Linked DNA regions of Homo sapiens. The protein of the gene in region 1 purifies or fractionates together with the protein of each later gene. This does not show direct contact. Each region holds a gene or a part of one and is shown on either strand. Other genes may lie near its edges.

Region 1 (3,500 bases):
TGATGCAATTAGGCTAGAAAGACCTGGGTTCTGTCACAACCTGACTGTGTAACCTTGGACCAGTCACTTAACCTCTCTGAGCCTCAATGACCTCATCTGCAAAATGGGGAGATACCAGGATCTACCTCACAGGGTTGCTGGGAGGATTCCTGGCAATAGTCCCTGCCACACAGTCAATGTGCAATCATGTGACCGTAGATGCTACTATCAATGATGATGACAATGACTATGATCAAAGGGCAGGCGCATAATGACTAGGAGAGTTGGGGGCTTCCTTTTTCAGAGCTAGGGGCACCATGGGGACAAAGGTGTTTATTTGGAGGCTGTGGTCCCAACCACCCATCGCCCTCGCCCACGCAGGTAATGTCCAACCTCCATTACCTATTGCTACCAGGGTGCCTACAAGGATGCCCACTGCCGACAGCTTCGTGGGCATGCCCTTCATGCGGCCCACCTTGCGCATGCACTGCCCCTCCACGTTGCAGCGACACACGATCACTGAGGGGAGAGGGGAGGAAGGTAAGGGGAGGGAGGGGAGGGCTCCCCAGCTGCTCAGAGCCCCCAGCCCAGCCACCTGGCTGATATGTGTGTGTTTCTGCACATGTGTGTATTCACATGTGTGTGAAGATATATGCGCTAGCCAGGCGTGGTGGCTCACACCTGTAATCCCAGCCCTTTGGGAGGCCGAAATGGGTGGATCACTTAAGCCAGGAGTTCATGGCTGGCATGGTGAAACCCCATCTCTACTAAAAATACAAAAATTAGCAGGGCATGATGGTGCACACCTGTAATCCCAGCTTCTTGGGAGGCTAAGGCAGAAGAATTGCTTGAATCTGGGAGGCGGAAGTTGTAGTGAGCCGAGATCATGCCACTACACTCCAGCCTGGGTGACAGAGTGAGACTCTGTCTCAAAAAAAAATGTATGTGCCTCTGTGCCTGTTCCTGTGTGCCCAGGTATGTGTGCCCAGCCATAGGTGTGCAAGTGTGCACAGGCATGTGCTGTCCACATGAGCAGCCTGTATGCATGTGTACCAGCTCCCTCCCCTTGCATCCCAGCGGTTCCCTCAGGAACTGCAGGCTGCACCCAAGCCCAATCTCACCTCGAACCAGGAGCTGCCACATCTGGGCATTGTGGCTGACCACCACGGGGATTATGTGTTCACGTGGCTCCACCCAATGCAGGGCCAAGGTGAGGTAGGCATGGGAACCTTTTGGGACAGCAGGCAAAGACCAGGGTCACCAGCCTGGACAGGCCCTCTGGGGGCTGCTCCCCCTAGGCCTAGCCCCACCCCCATGGTAGAAGGGTATCTCACTTCCAAGTGACACCCCCTCCCTGCCTTGGCCACAGCCTCCCTCCCTTTCCCCACCACACACCATTGAGAGTCTGGAGGCGCCAATCCCGTTGCACCGTGGGGTTGGGACCAAGGGTGAAGCTGTAGGGACCGTGCCCACTGGCCAGATCGGGGTCCTTGCTGGGTCCACTCACGATCAAGCCATGGTCTTGGCGGGGTGTGCAGAGGTATTGGGAGGGCACAGGGGCAAGAGTCAGGGCTGGGGCAGGAGGGGCCTTTAGGAAGTGGATCACCAGGGGTGCAGAAGCGCTCAGTCTCGGCTCATCTGCAGAGGAGGCAGTGCTGAGCTGGCCAGGTGTTGCCAGGGGGAGGGTGAGCTCTGAGGTCCCTGGGCTGCTCCCGCAGCCCATGAGCCTCGCCTTATAGACTCCCCTGCCATGCTCCCTCCATGCTTCTCTCCACCTGTCATCATCCCCATGCCACTGTGGACATCCCTGACTTTGGCGGAGCTCACTGCTGCTGGGTCTGCCCTGTATCACAGCCCAGCTCAGAGTTGAAACCTGCCTCCCGGGGCTCCCCACCCCAGGGCCAGCTCTCTGTCCTGAGCAGTGTTCAGTGTCCTCCACACCTGGCTCCAGTGGCCCATTCACTCCAGCACTCCTTCCCCAGGGGCAGCCCCTGGTCCTCCTGCCACCTCCCCGGCCCTATACCAGTCCCTGAAGCTGACACCCTGAGAGGCCCTCCAGTGGCTAAAGGACAGGGCTGGGAGATTTTGTGTGTCAATCTAGGAGAATGATCAGAGAGGGGAGGCAGATGCCAGACTTGCCCACCGGAGGAGTAGATCCATTCTCAGAGAGGAACATTGAACCCAGCTTCATATCTGCCTCTCCTGCTTGGGGCTGGGGGTTGCCAGTGAGGGCCTCTGGGAGGAAGCTCAGTCCTGCTGTCTGTCTGTCTGAGGTTTGTACCCCCTCCCAGGGGCTCCCATCACTGCCTGGCCATACCTGTATCCTGGGCCTCCACAAGCACCGTGTAGGTGTCCCCAGGCTGGGCGCCCTGCAGGGACTGGGCGGTGTGCACCTCCCCGGAGAATTTCTCAATGCAGAGCCAGCCCTCTGAGTCATTGACTAGGGAGAACCTGCCGCCCAAAGAAGGAGGTGAGGAGGTACTGGGACTACATATAGGGTTTTGCTCAGAATCCCCCAGGGCTGTGTGACTTGCTTAAATTCCACACCCTCTCTGTGACTCAGGGGCCACAGCAAAGCCTGGGGGGCCCAGTCTCTCTCTCCAGCTTCAGGATTTGTTGTGGTGGTGGTGGTGGGTGTGGGATGAAGAACAGATCATGTGGGTAAGGGAGAAACTCTTAGAGCCTGGGAGGCCCATTTCAACTTTGCTCACTCCAGGTCACCCTGCAAGGGAATCAGAGTCTATGAACAACCTTGTCTGTCTGCAATCTGTTGGGGGGCATTGGAGGAGGGCCTGGTCCTCCCTCCAGGTGCTGAGGCATAATCTGAGCTCTCATGGGGTCCAAAACACCCCTCTCCATGCCCCACCCAGTCCATCCAGCCCCGATCCCTGCCAGGAGTCACAACCTTGGCATTTGCCATAGTTTGAGAAATTTTGCAGGCCACAGATAATGTGAGTCCCCTCTGAGGCCCTGGGGTCATCCCCAGGGAGCAGGGGCAATCCAGTCCAGGTAAGGGGCTGGGATTTTAGCTCACCTGAGGGTTCGGCTGATGGGGTCGGAGGGCTGGATGGTCAGCAGGAAAGAGCCGGCTGGGGCACTGATGGGGACACTGGCCTCGTAGCTCTCCTGGTCCAACTTGGGGGGTGGCATCACTCTCTCCACTAGCACAGTCACCGTGGCGGTGGCTCCAGGGCCTGGGCCTGGCCCCACCAGCTTCGCCACACTCTGCACCACCACCACCACCTCATGACTTGGAGCTGCCTCATAACTGAGGTTCTGGAACCAGGAGGCCCAGGTCACTGTGCGGGCCTGGGCAAGGCACATGTGCATGCATGCGTGCATGTGTGGGCCCCTTTCCCAGCTACCCAGGCCCTCACCTTGCAGAGTCTGAGTCTAACATGCCCAGAGTCTGGCTCCCAATCCAGGCCAAAAGTCCCTTCTGTGTCTCCCCTCTCAATGGCAAAATCCATGAGGCGGAAGGCGGGCTCGAGGTCAGCATCAATGGCTGTTAGCATGGCCAC
Region 2 (3,500 bases), on another chromosome or scaffold:
ACCATATCACAACCAGGATACTGACATTGATACCTAAGACAAAGAAGATAAACTGATAGATTTTTAAGTAACTTTTGTCTTCTTTGTCAGTGATTGTCAATTAGAGAGAGTCAGGCTATGAGAGGTAGGCTACCTGAGTGTCAGAATGAGGTAATAAGAATAATGCTTCTCCTCATCTCTACTAAAAATACAAAATTAGCTGGGTGTGGTAGCGCATGCCTGTAATCGCAGCTACTCAGGAGGCTGAGGCAGGACAATCGCTTGAACCTGGGAGGCGGAGGTTGCGGTGAGCTGAGATCGCACCACTGCACTCCAGCCTAGGCAACAAAAGCGAAAGTCCGTCTCAAAAATAAATAAATAATACTTGTCTATTGGTTTTCATGTGTACGCATCTGCCTTCTTCAACACATGACATTGTAGGCATTTTCTCTCCCTAGCAGTTTTTCATTTTACCCTTTGGCATCTTTCTACTTAATCCTTTGAAATCACCCAAACTGTGGAAGCACAAGAGAGTGAAAATTCCTGATGTAGTTAATACCCATGGAATAAACTTATTATATTAGTCTTGCCACAGAAAACTCCATAAATAGTCTACTTCCATAGGTTAGAGTGATACTAGAACTTCTGATGACAGTTCGCTTTTTAATAAATTAGGACTCAGCACTTCCTTTGCGATTCAGGTTCTTTGGCAGAACAAAGACTCATGGGGTTTTGTTCTGATAGTTAATGGAAGAGAGAAATTTTCCCAAGGAGGTAGAGATCCCCAGGCAAAGTAACGATGGGAATGTTGACGATTTGAACTTGCCTGCATTGTGCCAGCATTGCTGGGTGAAAGAAGTTTCCTCTTAGGCCTTACAGTGGAAGTGGTCGGAAAGAAATACAATTACAGGGCTGAATAAAAGTGATACCCTGGCCGGGTGCGGTGGCTCACGCCTGTAATCCCAGCACTTTGGGAGGCCGAGGTGGGTGGATCATGAGGTCAGGAGATCGAGACCATCCTGGCTAACACGGTGAAACCCCGTCTCTACTAAAAATACAAAAAAATTAGCCGTACGTAAATGCACCTGTCGTCCCACCTACTCGGGAGGCTGAGGCAGGAGAATCGCTTGAACCCAGGAGGCAGAGGCTGCAGTAAGCCAAGATCCTGCCACTGCACTCCAGCCTGGGCGACAGAGTGAGACTTCGTCTCAAAAAAAACAGTGACACCCTAAGATTTTCTTTTGCTGACACATGTCACTTTAAAAAAATAAAATTTAGAATATGATAGTCACATGTAGGTTGACTCATATAATTGCTCCTTATTTCATATTTAACTGTTTTCTGAAAAAAAAAAAGTTTTTCTCTTCCTCTTTTATGAAAGGAGAATTTCATAGTCCTAAGAAAAGTGACATTTAAATATTTGATCAGGAGATTTTTTGGTGGCTTGGAGAGGTTGTGTTGTGTTTATATTGAGATGCATATTTGTTTGTACTAATTACCCTAGGATTGCTTTATGAGGGTGCTCAAAATAAATGCTTACAAAGGTAGGGCAGGTAACAGAAATGAGTAACAAGGACCTGGTGAAGAACTAGGGTGTTTGGCTCCTTTCAAGGGACAGCCACTGTGTCACTAGCCCTGTGAGAATGCCTGATCATGTGGTTGTCACGTCTTTCAGTTGTCATTGTTGTTGTTGTTGTTGTTGAGACGGAATCTCACTCTTGCCCAGGCTGGAGTTCAGTGGCATGATCTCAGCTCACTGCAACCTCTGCCTCCTGGGTTCAAGCGATTCTCCTGCCTCAGCTTCCCGAGTAGCTGAGATTACAGGCTCGCGCTACCATGCCCAGCTAATTTTTGTATTTTTAGTAGACACAGGGTTTCACCATGTTGGTCAGGCTGGTCTCGAACTCCTGACTTCAGGTGATCCGCTGCCTTGGCCTCCCAAAATGCTGGAATTACAGGCATGAGCCACCACTCCCAGTTTGTCCTTCAGTTTTAAAGAGAAACTATAAATTGGATATTTTATTAAAGCCCTTTAAAGCCGACAAATAATTCAGATTTCAAATCAAAGCCCCGTGCACTGTGTGCTCCTGCACACTATGCTTCTCTCTTGTATCATTTTCATTTAATTCTTGGCAATTTTGTGTTTACCAACTGCCAGGGAGCCCAAGGAATTTAGCCGTCACCTCAAACTTAACCAAACTTACAACCTTTGGGCCCAAACCTGCTCCCTCTCTGGACTCTTTTTGCTGTCTATATTGGCCTCTGTGTTGCAATCATTTCTGGACTGAACAAGGCCTTGGTGTTTTTTCTCCTTTGTTCTTCTCACCATAGTTCCCCCAAACCTGAGTCTGTTGATTTTGTCTCAAGAATTTGCCTGTTTTCTGTTCCCTTCCTTCCTGTTCCAGCTACCCCCATTGCTAGCCTGCCTACTGCTCCTCTGATCCAGATTCTGTCCCCATTCTAGTTCCTGTAGCGTTGTCCAGCCAGGTTGATCATCTTTTTCTAATACCTGTTTCGTTATCTTCCTACTCAAAAAATTCTATGTGTCTTTGTTGCCTACCATGTAAATTTCACTAATTCTGCCTAGATCTCAGGGCTTCATAGTAGTTTTATCTTGGCTGTCTAAAGTTCCCCCCGGCACTTCTTAACCCATTGGTCCATTAAAGCCAACTCTATTTCCCCAATTCAGCCCTCTGTCAGGGGCTGCCAGGAATCTCGTGGGAGTTTCTGGATAATGGGTAGATCCTTTCCCTAGGCCTTGGCTGTTGAGATGATGTAGATTCTGGAGTTTTCAAATCTTTTTCTTTTTTCTTTTTATTTTTTAATAAACCTCTATTACCATTTGGCCCCAACACCTCAAGGCAAGAAGGAAGTGGAATAAAGGAAGACTCCTGAATCCACCTCTAACTGGGGAAGAGGCTGGGAGGGAAGAGGGCTGCTTTGAGGTCCTCAGATTCACAGTATACCCAAGGTGAGGCTTCTCCATCAGAGACTTTGGGATGGAGAGGCCTTCTTTTACTACCTTTGAGAGTTCCTTCTTCAACAGCTTTCTGCTTCTCTCCCTCCAGCTGAGACCAGAAATTTTTGCTTCATTTATGTGAAGCTGTGCTAACCACAGACATTTTGCAATCTGAATGCAGTGTATGCTCATTCTCCTTGCAGCCCACCCAGTTGTGCATGTCCTTGGATAGTTGTGTGATTGACTAAGTCACTTCAATCAACTAGAGCAACTTGTAGGTTAATAGGTGAACTTCCCTATTCAGAAAAGTCTTCAGATAATTTCTTGTTTTGATGAAATGCTGGTAATTCGCTGCAACATTCTTTCTTGCCTCTCTCCTTTGCATTTTGTTTAGACCCCTGATGTATATATAACACATAGCACCTAGAATTATAGTTATTTGAATGTGTGACTATTTGCCATTTTACTCTGAGTTCTATGAGACAGCAAGTGCTGCTTTTGTGTTTCCAGCTTTTAATACCATGTCTGGTTATGAAAAGCACTCAACATAGTAGATCCTTGA
Region 3 (2,155 bases), on another chromosome or scaffold:
AGATTGGTTGGGATTGTTTTGAGGACATTAGTGACAAAAAGATATGACTCCTTTGTTGATTAATAAACTAAGCATTCTGAAGTATACAGCATGCCAACAATATGCATCTTGTCCTAGACTTCCTACAAATCTATAGAAAATTCACTGCCTGATTACTGAGATCATACCCTAAAATGATACATCAGAAGGATGTAGATATTTTTGTGAATCTGGACACATATTAAGCAAGATAAAGGTGTGATCAACAATCCAAAAAAAAAAAAAAAACTCTAAAGAACCTATATTCTTATATGCCACAAATTTCTGAATATAGAATCACTTCTCATAATGACTGCATTTAAAATCTTTTTTAAAAAAATGATTTTTTTTTTGAGACAGAGTCTTGCTCTGTTGTCCAGGCTGGAGTGCAGTAGTACAATCTCAGCTCACTGCAACCTCCATCTCCTGGGTTCAAGTGATTCTCCTGCCTCAGCCTCCCAAGTAGCTGGGACTACAGGCGCATGCCACCAACCCTGGTTAATTTTTTTGTAGTTTTTAGTTGAGACAGGGTTTCACCATGTTGGCCAGCCTGGTCTCGAACTCCTGACCTCACGTGATCTGCCTGGTTTGGTCTCCCAAAATGTTGGACTAACAGGCATGAGCCACCGTGCCCAGCCAAAAAAAAAGATATTTTATTGAGCCTATAGTCCTAGCTACTCAGGAGGCTGAGATGGAAGGATCATTTGGGCTCAGGAATTTGAGACCAGCCTGGACGACATAGCAAGATTCCACTTCCTGCTCCCCCAAAAAGAGAGAAAAAAAATGAGGCTTTACCGAATATTTTCTCTATTTTATTGTTGGTCAATAATGTAATAAGACTTCTTAAAAACTTACCATATCAACCAGAGCAACATACATGAATAAGCCAGCAGTAAGTGCAAATATCCACATAGAAACATTTTCAGCATAATGACCAATGAAAATTCCTGTTGCCATTCCAAGATACGCCAGCATGGCTGACAATGCATTATAAAGGACAGCCTGCTTAACGGTCATGCCAGCCTTTAGTAGAACAGCAAAGTCACCTTTAACAGAAAACAAAAAAGGAGGAAAAAGTCATTGAGAAATCATTTTTAAGACACATACCAAGATACTTCCCAGATTTAAGAAAATTTTCCAGTGTTTTTGAGAGGGGGAAAAGAAAACAAAATTAAGAATGACCTAGGGTTAAAGCAGTGTTAGTAAATCACCCTAACAGCTGTAGAAACTATTGTTTTTCCTTTTTATTCTTCATCATTCAACTTGATGTACAAACTTTTTTTTTTTTTCTTTTTTTTGAGACAGTATCTTGCTCTGTCACCCAGGCTGGAGTGCAGTGGCACCGATCTTGGCTCATTGCAACCTCTGCTTCCTGGGTTCAAGCCATTCCTGTGCCTCAGCCTCCTGGGTAGCTAGGACTACAAGTGCATGCCACCACACCTGGATAATTTTTTTACTTTTAGTAGAGACGGGGTTTCACCATGTTGACCAGGGTGGTTTTGAACTTCTGACCTCAGGTGATCCCCTTGCCCCGGCCTCCCGAAGTGCTGGGATTAAAGGCGTGAGCCACTGCACCTGGCCAGATACCTTAACCAAAAAAATTTTTTAAGGCTTACACTTTGTCAAAATGATAAACACTAAAAATTTAATATTGTGGTCTTGCAGTGTTTTCAAGGAGCTTGGAATTTGGCCACAAAGAAGGGAGGAATGGGTGGAGAACACACATGAGATGATCAGCAAATGATAATGGTAATGCATAAAAAACAGCTGAAGAGTTCAATGCTACAATTATAAAAGGAGAAAAGAGACACATGAAGATGGAAATAAGAGAGGGGCTTCATGGGACTTGAATGTGGAACATAGATGCTGAAGATGATAAGGAATGGCTGAACATATAACAAGGAACAAAAGTGAAAATGGCATCAGCGGTATGTGTGTGAATATATCTCCAAAACAAGAAAAACAAGGACGTGAACTGGGATCCAGAACTTGGGAAGGTTTTAATGCCTAGTGACAAAGAAGAACAATATTGAAAACACAACTCATCCACTTCCCTTCAATTCCAATGAGATTCTCTTTCTCAACTTTTGTTAATGGAAGATGATTCCTTTGTATCCTGTAGTCTTATTCACCTTGT
Region 4 (3,963 bases), on another chromosome or scaffold:
TTCTGAAAGATTATCGTAATCTCATGAAAGGCAAAGTAAAACTCACATGTATTGCTCTAAATATATATGAACTAAATATATGCCGCCCCACCCCCCCCCCAAACAGTTTTCATAACAGGCTCAAAAAACATCTCCTTAAAAGACTTGTGCCAAGACACCAACAATTAGGAGGCAGAGAAATAAATCTCACCTGATTACTTGTCGGGTCACATTTGCCTAAAATGATAGCTGAGTCTTCAGCTATCAAGAGTGGCTCGCTTTTCTCACAGCTCTCCTGGCTGATGAGCGTGTCCCCATAGTTGGGCTGGGGGAAAATCAGGTGACTCTTCTGCGAGTCCGCAATGAGAGAGACCTCGTGGGAATAGGTTTGCAGGAAAGCCTGTACCCCGTCCACGCCTACAAAATGTGACGTGGGCATACCTGCCAACCCGCCTTCAGAAGCCTGCAGCAGGCGTGACTTATGCCAGCGCCACAGCCTGAGTGCCAGCAGCACGATGACAAAGACCAGGAAGATGCAGGAGACTGCGGCCACCGCCACCACCAAGTACAGCGAGAGGTCTGAGGTTTCAGAGTTAGCCAGAGACTCGAGGCTGCCGAGGTCCGCCAGGACTTCGGGGATGCTGTCGGCCACAGCCACGGTGAGCGTGACGGTGGCCGAGAGAGGGGGCTGGCCGTGGTCCTGGACGGCCACCACGAGGCTCTGCTTGAGCGCGTCTCTGTCCAGCAGTGCCCGCGCTGTACGCACCTCGCCCGTGTGCTCCCCCACCGCGAAGAGTCCCGGCTCGCTGGCCTTAAGCAGGCGATAGGACAGCCAGGCGTTCTGGCCTGAATCTTTGTCCACCGCAACCACCTTGGTCACCAGGTAGCCAGGTTCCGCAGAGCGGGGCGCCAGCTCCACGCCAGTGGAGCCGTCTGTGGGGAGGGCAGGGTACAGGATCTCGGGCGCATTGTCGTTCTGGTCCAGCACGAACAGGCTCAGCGACACGTTGCTGCTGAGGGGCGGGTCCCCGCTGTCACGTGCTATCACTCTCAGTTCTAAGTCTCGAAACTGCTCATAGTCGAAGGATTGTAGGGCATAGAGAACACCAGTGTTGGAGTTAATAGAGACATAGGAGGACAGAGGCACCCCCTGGACAGTGTCATCCGTCAGAGAGTAAGTGACCAGGGCATTCTGTTTGCTGTCCGGGTCGAGGGCGGTCACTGAGAAGATGGAGGCACCCCTGGGGTTGTTTTCGGGAATGTAGGCAGAGTAAGAGGAGTGAGGAAAAACGGGAGGGTTATCGTTGTCATCTGCCACATTCAGCCAGACATGAGTTTCTGCAGACAAAGGCGGGCTTCCCTGGTCTGTGGCTGTCAACGTTATATTGTAGCTCTGGACCAACTCCCTGTCCAGCACTCTGCTTGTTATCAATTTGTAATAATTTCCATAAGTCTTTTCTAATTTAAAAGGCAGGTGGTTAGGAATAAAACAGGAGACTTGACCATTTTCTCCAGAATCTTGATCTTGCACATTTAGAAGAGCAATCACTGTACCTGGAGGAGAGTTTTCCAGAATTGAATTAATAGAAGAGGTGATAGTTATTTCTGGAGCGTTATCATTCACATCCACAACAGTGATCAACATCGTCGTGGTGGTAAAGAGACCTCCACCATCTTGGCCTTGAATTTCCATCTCATAGAATCTATATTTTTCAAAATCCAGAGACCCCCGTACTTGAACTTCTCCAGTTTGTGAATCCAATTGGAATATTTCAGAAGCCTTGCTTTCCATGTTCCGAAATGAATACATTACTTCCCCGTTGATTCCCTCGTCTGGATCCGTTGCATTAACCATCAGCACCCGAGTTCCGGAGCTGATGTTTTCTGGAACACTCACGCGATATACGGACTGTGTAAACATTGGGATGTGATCATTTACATCGAGGACCACCACACGAATGGGAACTGCGCCCTTTCGGATGGGATCGCCTCCATCTAAAGCTGTGAGGAGGAGCAGGTGAGCAGCCTCTTTCTCTCGGTCCAGGCTTCCCTCCAGTACTAGCTCTGGATTCTTGGCCCCATCCGTTCTGCCCCGCAGTTGCAAGGAAAAGTAATTATTAGGGCTGAGCTGGTAGCTCTGGAGGGAGTTCACGCCCACATCTGGATCCCTAGCATTAGGAAGAGCAAATCGCGCCCCAGGAATTGCGTGCTCACTGACTTTTATCTCCACTTCGTCCTCCTGGAAGCTGGGGGCGTTATCATTAATATCTATTATTTCCACCTCCACTCCGTAAATCTTCAAGGTGTCTTCCACGAGAAGTTCCATATTTAAAAAACAGGAGGACACCGTCTCACAGAGCTCCTCCCGGTCTATCCTGCCTGCCGTGATCAAGCTGCCGCTTCGCGGATTCACAGCGAAAAGCTGTGTCTTCCCTCTGGAGACGATGCGGACTCCGCGCTTCGCCAGCTCCCGGGGCTCCAGCCCCAGGTCCTTGGAGATATTGCCCACGAAGGAGCCCTTTTCGGTCTCTTCTGGCACCGAATATCGGATCTGCCTGGCCCGGAACCCCCGCAGCGTCCCCAGGAAAATGCACAGCAGCAGCAGCAGCCGACTGCGGTCCCCGCGCTGTAGCCGATTCGCCATGGCAGGCTCTAAGCCGATATTCCGCGGTTTCTCGAGCTGGTTGGTTGTGAATCGGCTTATGTATCTATGAAGTCCTAGGCCGACTACATCCAAAATATATCAGAAAGCGAAGGAAAATACTTCTAAGTCTCCAGTGTCAGGATCTGTGAGTATCCATCTCATTCCGCTTTGTGTGGTAGAGGCGGGGGAGGGAGGGACTCAATGGCGCGCAGCTTCCCATTCCCTGATTGGTGAGCAGCGGCGCCTAGAGCCCATTCTTATTATTGCAACGACTAAGAAATTCCAGAAGAAATGATTACGCTCACCTTTGTGAATCACACGTATTTGTAGAGCTTAAAAACGATGATACACAATACTTACATTATGTGACGTTAAAACTTTACCAAGAACACCTGCGAAAGGAGTAATTATTAAAAGGGCTTGCTTAATTTTTAAAAAGTTTTCAAAATATTACTGGAGCTGAAAACTTGTAGGTTGTAGTTGGTTCCAATTGATTTTAACCGACTGAAAGGAACGACATTTCTGGAAGTGGAAATAATACGGTCCCGATAAAATCATCAGGTAGGATGCCTAACTATAATTCTTACAAGGTTCCTTTATTGAGTAAATGAAGATGAAATACTTGAGAAAAATTGAGTAGCATCAGGGTTTCAATTAAAATACCATGCCGTAAAAATATACCTGTATTTTATATTTTTAACCGAAAGGTATTTTACTTCATAAAAATGTCACCGGAGATTACCCATGTAGTTTGCTTTAAAATGTCTTTGAATAGTAGGAAGACTGAGGCATTTAATTTAAACTTTTGTTTTAATAATGATAACCATAAATTTGACCTATATTTTGCGAACTCTATGAAGAAGTTATCTAGAATCTTAAAATAATACCACTATATTGGAATATATTGGCATATTGTAATATAAAAAGGATTAAATACATTTTTAAATACTTACCTGTTTAAGAATCTTCTTATCTGCTTCAACGCTGGGAGTTAAAATGCTAGCCAGTAGCATGCTATCTTTGTTGAGGTTATCTTGTGTGGCTGGACAATGATCAACAGATGTGAAAAAATTAAATTCTGGATTCATTTGATCCCCAGGCACACAAAAATTATAGGCATAGGGCAACGTTCCCTCACTGTAGTTGGGGGGACCCACAGGTCCGGACTTGGAGCAGAGAACTGACTCAAAGCAGTCTCCTGCAGTAGGGCTGAAAGACTGTCGCAGGCGTAGAGCAATAGCTAGAATCACCGCGAGGAGAAAGAGCACAGAAATCAAGGCCAAGGCCACCACCAGGTAAAACTGCATCTCAGCCTGGGAGTCAGAGGGTGTGGGATGGTC

What was found. The genes of interacting proteins can lie anywhere in the genome.
Region 2: the proteins of CDH16 (region 1) and DCBLD1 purify together in Homo sapiens (affinity purification with mass spectrometry; one large-scale study listed by BioGRID and IntAct). This does not show direct contact.
Region 3: the proteins of CDH16 (region 1) and SLC39A6 purify together in Homo sapiens (affinity purification with mass spectrometry; one large-scale study listed by BioGRID and IntAct). This does not show direct contact.
Region 4: the proteins of CDH16 (region 1) and PCDHGA11 purify together in Homo sapiens (affinity purification with mass spectrometry; one large-scale study listed by BioGRID and IntAct). This does not show direct contact.

Annotation. Positions count from the first base shown.
Region 1 is NC_000016.10:66,908,886-66,912,385, forward strand, and holds part of CDH16 (cadherin-16 isoform 1 precursor), read right to left. Parts: coding exon 3,357-3,500; intron 3,256-3,356; coding exon 3,014-3,255; intron 2,431-3,013; coding exon 2,297-2,430; intron 1,618-2,296; coding exon 1,375-1,617; intron 1,209-1,374; coding exon 1,101-1,208; intron 499-1,100; coding exon 382-498; intron 1-381. UniProt on the Homo sapiens protein: Cadherins are calcium-dependent cell adhesion proteins. They preferentially interact with themselves in a homophilic manner in connecting cells; cadherins may thus contribute to the sorting of heterogeneous cell types.
Region 2 is NC_000006.12:117,499,674-117,503,173, forward strand, and holds part of DCBLD1 (discoidin, CUB and LCCL domain-containing protein 1 isoform 1 precursor), read left to right. Parts: intron 1-3,500.
Region 3 is NC_000018.10:36,110,186-36,112,340, forward strand, and holds part of SLC39A6 (zinc transporter ZIP6 isoform 1 precursor), read right to left. Parts: intron 1,065-2,155; coding exon 874-1,064; coding exon of another isoform or gene 862-873; exon of another isoform or gene 809-861; intron 1-808. UniProt on the Homo sapiens protein: Zinc-influx transporter which plays a role in zinc homeostasis and in the induction of epithelial-to-mesenchymal transition (EMT).
Region 4 is NC_000005.10:141,419,888-141,423,850, reverse strand, and holds the start of PCDHGA11 (protocadherin gamma-A11 isoform 1 precursor), read right to left. Parts: upstream 2,801-3,963; 5' UTR 2,624-2,800; coding exon 191-2,623; coding exon of another isoform or gene 110-190; exon of another isoform or gene 1-109. Other genes in the region: PCDHGB7 (protocadherin gamma-B7 isoform 1 precursor), read right to left, coding at 3,577-3,963. UniProt on the Homo sapiens protein: Potential calcium-dependent cell-adhesion protein. May be involved in the establishment and maintenance of specific neuronal connections in the brain.